Homo sapiens: one gene and its partner. Changing the gene in region 2 together with the main gene of any one other region gives a genetic interaction. Each region holds a gene or a part of one and is shown on either strand. Other genes may lie near its edges.

Region 1 (3,500 bases), on a different chromosome or scaffold from region 2:
TCCAGCCTGGCGACAGAGCAAGACTCCGTCTCAAAAAATAATAATAAAATAAAAATTAAAAATAATTTTTAAAAAAGAATCTTTCCTTTTTCTTTTTCCTCTTTTATATATTCTCTTTTGTCTTTTTCCACATTGTCTGAACTTTTAAGAATCTTTTAATTCACTTTGTTATTTTTGCCTAGCATATTACGAGGAAGTAATTGAGGTTTAAAAGATTTATTATTTAAATTTTTTGCCTTAAGATTATATTATAAAGTTAATTTGAAATCTAAATTGCATTTTTAAATCTAAATTACAATTTTTAAAACCCTTTCCCCATTAATAAGCAGTATATATTGCTTACTTTTTTTTAATTCTGTAAAGAAATGTGATTTTTAAAACAAATTAATATGTTTAGGGAACAATTTATATTGAAATTTAACCAGGTGTTATAGTATCAAAAACCAATAAAACCTGCATTATAATCTTATGTAATTGGAATCTTATATTTTGACCATATAAAAATCAACTTTTTTGTTTTAAACTTTCATACTTTATTTTAAAACAATGTAATTGTAGAAAAGATCTTAGCCTGCTACTTGCAAATACTTCACAAACATTGTAGTTGTGCAGAGTCTTACATCCCAATAAGTTAAAAGCCAAAGTGAATATAATTAACTTTATTTTCTCTTGCATGTTAATTTTTAAAGGAATAGACACATTTAATGCTCTATATAGGAATTTTGATCAGGCCAGGCGCAGTGGCTCATGCCTGTAATCCTAACACTTTGGGAGGCCAAGCCAGGTGGATCAGTTGAGGTCAGGAGTTCGAGACCAGCCTGGCCAACATGGTGAAACCCCGTCTCTGCTACAATTACAAAAAATTAGCTGGGTATGGTGGCACAAACCTGTAATCTCAGCTACTTGGGAGGCTGAGACAGGAGAATTGCTTGAACCCAGGAGACGGAGGTTACAGTGAGCCAAGATTGTGCCATTGCACTCCAGCCTGGGCAACAGAGTGAGACTTAATCTCAAAAAAAAAAAAAAAGAATTTTGAGCAAATGAATACAATTTATAGACAAGCAGCTTGATGTGAGTTTGCAGAATTATAATCAATTTTATGTTGTGTTTCAACATCTGTGTCCTTTATATTCTTTATCTTAATTGGCCAAAATGCAGCTGGTTAATATTTAATATTATACACATATTATTAAATAATATATGATTCCCGATCATTGTATTTAATTTATCTCTTTTGTCTCCAGCCCTTACCCACCAACATAAGCACACTTAACCTAGACTTCAATATGCAGTAGACGCAGTAAATAAACAAATCAATGGGTGAATGCTTATTACTTTTTTCCTTAAGCAACTCTCCTCATATTTTGTTTGCTTGTTCTTCATTTTCTAGGAGAATGTGGATTATATTATTCAGGAGCTCCGAAGACCCAAATACACTATATATTTCATTTGTAAGTATGTTAGTTCACTTTTTCAAACATGTAACAACATCCCAGTTAGTGTGTTTCATTGAGCCCTTCATATCATCAATAACTTCATTGAATCTGTCACTATAAAAGTCTAGTTTATTTAATGTCCTTCCAAAGTATTAAAAATCTTTTGACCTGCCGGGCGCGGTGGCTCACACCTGTAATCCCAGCACTTTGGGAGGCCAAGGCGGGCGGATCATCTGAGGAGTTTGAGACCAGCCTGACCAACATGGTGAAACCCCATCTCTACTAAAAATACAAGATTAGCTGGGCATGGTGGCACATGCCTGTAATCCCAGCTACTTGGGAGGCTGAGGCAGGAGAATCGCTTGAACCGGAGAGGCGGAGATTGCAGTGAGCCGAGATTGCGCCATTGCACTCCAGCCTGGGCAACAAAGCGAAACTCCATCTCAAAAAAAAAAAAAATACTTTTGACCAATATTCTGTTTCAGAGGGCTAAATGTGATTTCCATTCATCTTTGATTGCTTAAATTAAAAATTTTACATTTTACTTTGCCTTTCAAGATGCTTTGTAAGTCAAAAGTTTTAAGTAGACAAATTTCACATCTCACCCCTGCCAAAAAAAAAAAGTATATACTTATCCCTGTTTTACACTTAAAAATTGAGGCATGGAAGCTGATTTATTTTTTGAAGTGGGAAGGTAATACTTGAGTTTGCTGGAAAAGCAGAAATTTACTTTACATACCAGATAAAAGCCTTTCACTTCTCTTTGTTACTATATTTAATGCACTGAAAGTATAAATCATCAGGTAGTGATCTCTTATGTGCACAACTTTCTTGGAGTGGGGGTTAGGTAGGGGAGATCTGGAAATAAACTAGGTTTGTGTTTACTATACAATTTACATGGATTTTTTTGATCCAATACATTCGGCTGTAGAAGTTACATCTATTCTCCTCTAGATGTCATTATTTATCTTTATGTTAATAGTGTTAGTGTAGTCTATTTGGTAACATTTCCAAAACCAAGGACTAGATTTAACAGTAAGTAGGGCATTTGAGAAGTTTTAAAGCTTACTTAAAGGTATTAGAGTTTTAGGGTTTAGACTACAGTCTAAGACGTACATACTTTCTTCAGCGTATACTACTTAAATAGAATAATGATACAAAAAATTAACATTTGCGAAAAGACTATATATATATAAGAGCTCTCTCATATTTTATTTCATTCAGTTCTGTGTAGAATTGAAAAGTTACATAAAGCTTGTCCAGTGGGTTTTCAGTGCACGACGCCCCAAGAGGTAAAAATAGGCAATTTTATTAATCTGTGGCAACTTAATTTTTGTTTGTTTTTGTCTGTTTGTTTTTGGCTAATAGTCACAGGTTTTCTTTTTAAAATTAAACTTTCTATTTTGAAGTAATTGTAGATTCATGTGCAGTTAAAAAAAAAACAACGAATAATAATACAGAGATCCCAGATACCCTTTACCCAGCTTCCCCCTGTGTAGTATCTTACATGATGATAGTACAATATCACAACCAAGATGTTAACACTGATACAGTCAGGATACACAACATTTTCATCTCTATAAGGATCCCTTTTATTAGCTTATATGGACTTCTGTCCCACCCCAACCCCCTCATTAACCCTGGTAACCACTAATATTTTCTCCATTTTATATTTTGTCATTCGAAGAATGTTCTATAAATGAAATCATACAGCATATAATCTTTTGGGACTGGCTTTTTTCACTCAGCATAATTCTCTGGAGAGTCATCCAGGCTGTTCTGTGTGTGTGTGTGTGTTGTTTTTGTTTTTTTTTTTTGTCCGAGAAGCAGTCTTGCTTTGTCACCCAGGCTGGAGTGCAGTGTCGCCATCTCAACTCACTGCAACCTCCACCTCCCGGGTTCAAGCGATTCTCCCACCTCAGCCTCCCGAGTAGCTAGGATTACAGGTACACACCACCACGCCCAGCTAATTTTTGTATTTTTTTTTAGTAGAGACAGGGTTTCACCGTGTTGGTTGTCCAGACTGGTCTCAAACTCCTGACCTTGGGTGATACGCCCGCTTCA
Region 2 (3,500 bases):
AAAGGAGGAAAGAACTGAAGAGATTTTCATTGTACAAAGAGCAGAAACAGAATCTGCTCAAAAGAACTGTAGAAGCCGGTTGAAAAAATGTTAAACAATGAGTAATTGTGTAAAAACTTGAGAGTATATGTTTGTCTTTGTGACACATGAAACGTTTCAATTTTAAGCTTACATGGGATTTTTAAGTGAGAGGAAGAAACAGATCCTGGTATACATAGGTGGGGAAACTTACAGATATGAAAACATTTTGATAAAAAGCTAACTTGATTGGTACAGAGCTAAAAAGGTGTGTAAAACAGGCTTTTTAAAAAACTTACATTTAGGTTATAATTTTTGCCTAGATTAATATTTGGGTCTCCTCTCCCCTAGATGCAATATAAGTGACCAACTTTGCTGGTGTTTCCTGCCTACCCATCTCCCACATTCTTTTACATGAGAACTAGACAGAGAATCAATGATAATTGATTTTGTTACTTAACCTAGGTAGCCTTAACATCATAACATTTCTTTCTGCATTTTAAGTCTAGTGATAGATATTCAGTGAATGATTCTCATTAATGAGCTAACTAATAATCATTGTTGAAAGCATGTAATTGCAGTAATGCAGTAGTGTTAAATGTTTATGATTTGCTTTCTTTTTGTAGAACACAAAGTAATTATAGTGGGACTGGATAATGCAGGGAAAACCACCATTCTTTACCAATTGTAAGTATGGGTGTTTATTAAACAGTTTTCACTAGTTATTGAAACTAATGTGTTTACAATTAATAAGAGATGCATTATAATAATGACGGAAAAACTTAAATATATGTTTTTTGTTTTTTGTTTTTTTAATTTTACCGAACACAATCTATAGAAAAGTGAGTGAAATAAACATTTGCTAAACCCTTCACAAACACTTATTGTTTTCTGCCCTCGAAAGAAAGAAATTAATATTAAATAAATAAAGCGCATATTAGAAGTGCTGGGGTGAGGTGATAAAGTGGATTTCACTTAGTTCTTACCCCACTTGGGTTTATGTAAATAAATTGATAGCTCTAGGAAGCCATTGCTACCCTCCTGACTAATAGCTTTGGAATTTTTTAACATAGCCAGACTTGTCAAAAGAAATGTGATCACTCCTGAAAATATTGCTGTAGTAGCTTGCAAGAGGGAGAGTCTTGAGACTTTCAGAGAAATCTGTTAATACCTTAGGAAATTTTCACAGCTCATCATTCCACTTGTCAGAGTACCTTCCATTATCCTTTCAATGCCAATGAAATGATAGTATTAAGCAGTAGAAGTGGATCTACCAGGCACTTTAACAAAATAGTTCTACAGTTCTTTGCCCCATTGTGTGGCTCTTACCTCTTCCCACTCATGTTGCATTAGAAGACAGCCATCAGCTCACCAGAAGTACTTCATTAGCCAGTGATTAACGCATTTTTCAGCTACTTTGCTAAAAAGCTACTGACTTAAAGTTTGTTGTTTCAGAGTTGAACAACTACTTGTTTCTCTTGAAAACATTTTCATTCATTGGTGATTATGTGTTTAAATATGAATTAGCTTTTAAACATCACATATAAACATTTCAGAAACCTGTCATCTTTGTTGAAATAATTTTACACATGGCTTCAAAAATATACATAAAACCCAAGAGAATTGCAAGCCTCCTCCAACACAGTAGTGACATGTTACTGGCAAGGGCATATTTGTTGAATTAATTGATTAATGTAGCTTTACCAATGATTATGATAATACGAGGGGTATGAGCATCAGTATTCTAAATATATATATATATATATACACACACACACAAACACACACACACACATATTTGAGACAGAGTTTTGCTCTGTTTCTAAGGGTGGAGTGCAATGGCGTGATCTCCACCTCCCAGGTTCAGGCGGTTCTCCTGCCTCAGCTTCCAGAGTAGCTGGGATTACAAGCGCCCACCACCACGCCCTGCAAATTTTTGTATTTTTAGTAGAGACGAGGCTTCACCATGTTGGTCAGGATGGTCTCAAGTTCTTGACCTCAGGTGATCCACCCAAAGTGCTAGAATTATAGGTGTGAGCCACCACACCTGGCCTTCTAAATATATCTATAGTTAATTTAAATTTTTACTTGCCCATGGTCATCTTTTTAGGACTACTTTAGATTAATATGCCTGAATTAATTTTTGTGACTAAGTCTCAATTTAGACAGTCTTCAAAATTATAGATAGCCTGCTATCCAATATTTGCTATTTTGCAATCACCTAGAAACTTGCTTTTCAGGATGGCATGGGACATTGGGTCTTATCTAACTGATAACAGGGCATGGTGGTATTGGAATTTTTGGCCACAGAAATGCAAATTCACACCACACTGTTTCCTTTCTTTTCCATCAAGCTTGCAATTCCTTCCGTTAAAAAAAAAAACAAACAAGAAACAAGTCTTTCTTCTGGAGTTGTTATCTAGATATTGATTTGCGCAAGTGTTCTCCAGGTTTATAATTTTCATGCTAATGATCACCATCATTGGTGCAGAAGGTTGATTGATCTTAAAAATACAGAGATAAAAGTTGCTTCAGATTCTCAAGATTTACAAGAGCTTTTACGGTGTCTGTTTTTCAACAGCTTAATGAATGAAGTGGTTCATACTTCTCCAACCATAGGAAGCAATGTTGAAGAAATAGTTGTGAAGAACACTCATTTTCTTATGTGGGATATTGGTGGTCAGGAGTCTCTGCGATCATCCTGGAACACATATTACTCAAATACAGAGGTATGCTAAGATGAATTTTGAATTTTAATCCAAAGGTCCCTAGAGTAAACATAGAAAGTAATTAGGCTGCACCTGGGCGTATTGACAGTTGCCTTTTTTTTTTTTTTTTTTAAGACGGAGTCTTGCTCTGTCGCCAGGCTAGAGTGCAGTGGAGTGATCTTGGCTCGCTGCAAGCTCCGCCTGCTGAGTTCAAGCCATTCTCCTGCCTCAGCCTCCCAAATAGCAGGAATTACAGGCGAGTGCCACCACACCCGGCTAATTTTTGTATGTTTAGTAGAGACCGGGGTTTCACCATATTGATCAGGTTGGTCTTGAATTCGGGACCTCGTGATCCACCCTCCTTGGCCTCCCAAAGTGCTGGGATTACAGGCTTGAGCCACCGTGGCCGGCCTTTTAATAAGATCCTTTTTTGTAGGGAATTTGGGTTTCCTTTTTTTAAAAAATAAATAAATAAAAATTTCATAAATGAGACTTAAGAATTTGGGTTTTCGAATAAAAGAAAAGGCAAATAGAAAGATTGTTTGGAGCTATTATTACTTGAGTGCTTACTGTTTGGCCAGGTTCTCTCCATTCATCTTCACAAGATTTTCATGTCTCCAGGGTTGGAGAGATCTGACACGTGGAGATATTATGTAGGTTTCCCCAAGATCTCACAACTTTCTAAGAGACCCTGACCGGTGGAGGAATAAAATATTTTATTAATTTAAAAATTTTTTATACCATGAACATTCAAAATGTTGGTAGATTTTTTTT

The links. A genetic interaction does not mean that the proteins touch.
Region 1: changes in ARL5B (region 2) and VPS45 together harm fitness less than expected from each alone (positive genetic interaction), as found in Homo sapiens cells (one large-scale study listed by BioGRID).

The regions. Positions count from the first base shown.
Region 1 is NC_000001.11:150,070,776-150,074,275, forward strand, and holds part of VPS45 (vacuolar protein sorting-associated protein 45), read left to right. Parts: intron 1-1,390; coding exon 1,391-1,451; intron 1,452-3,500. UniProt on the Homo sapiens protein: May play a role in vesicle-mediated protein trafficking from the Golgi stack through the trans-Golgi network.
Region 2 is NC_000010.11:18,665,931-18,669,430, forward strand, and holds part of ARL5B (ADP-ribosylation factor-like protein 5B), read left to right. Parts: intron 1-644; coding exon 645-705; intron 706-2,599; coding exon 2,600-2,747; intron 2,748-3,500.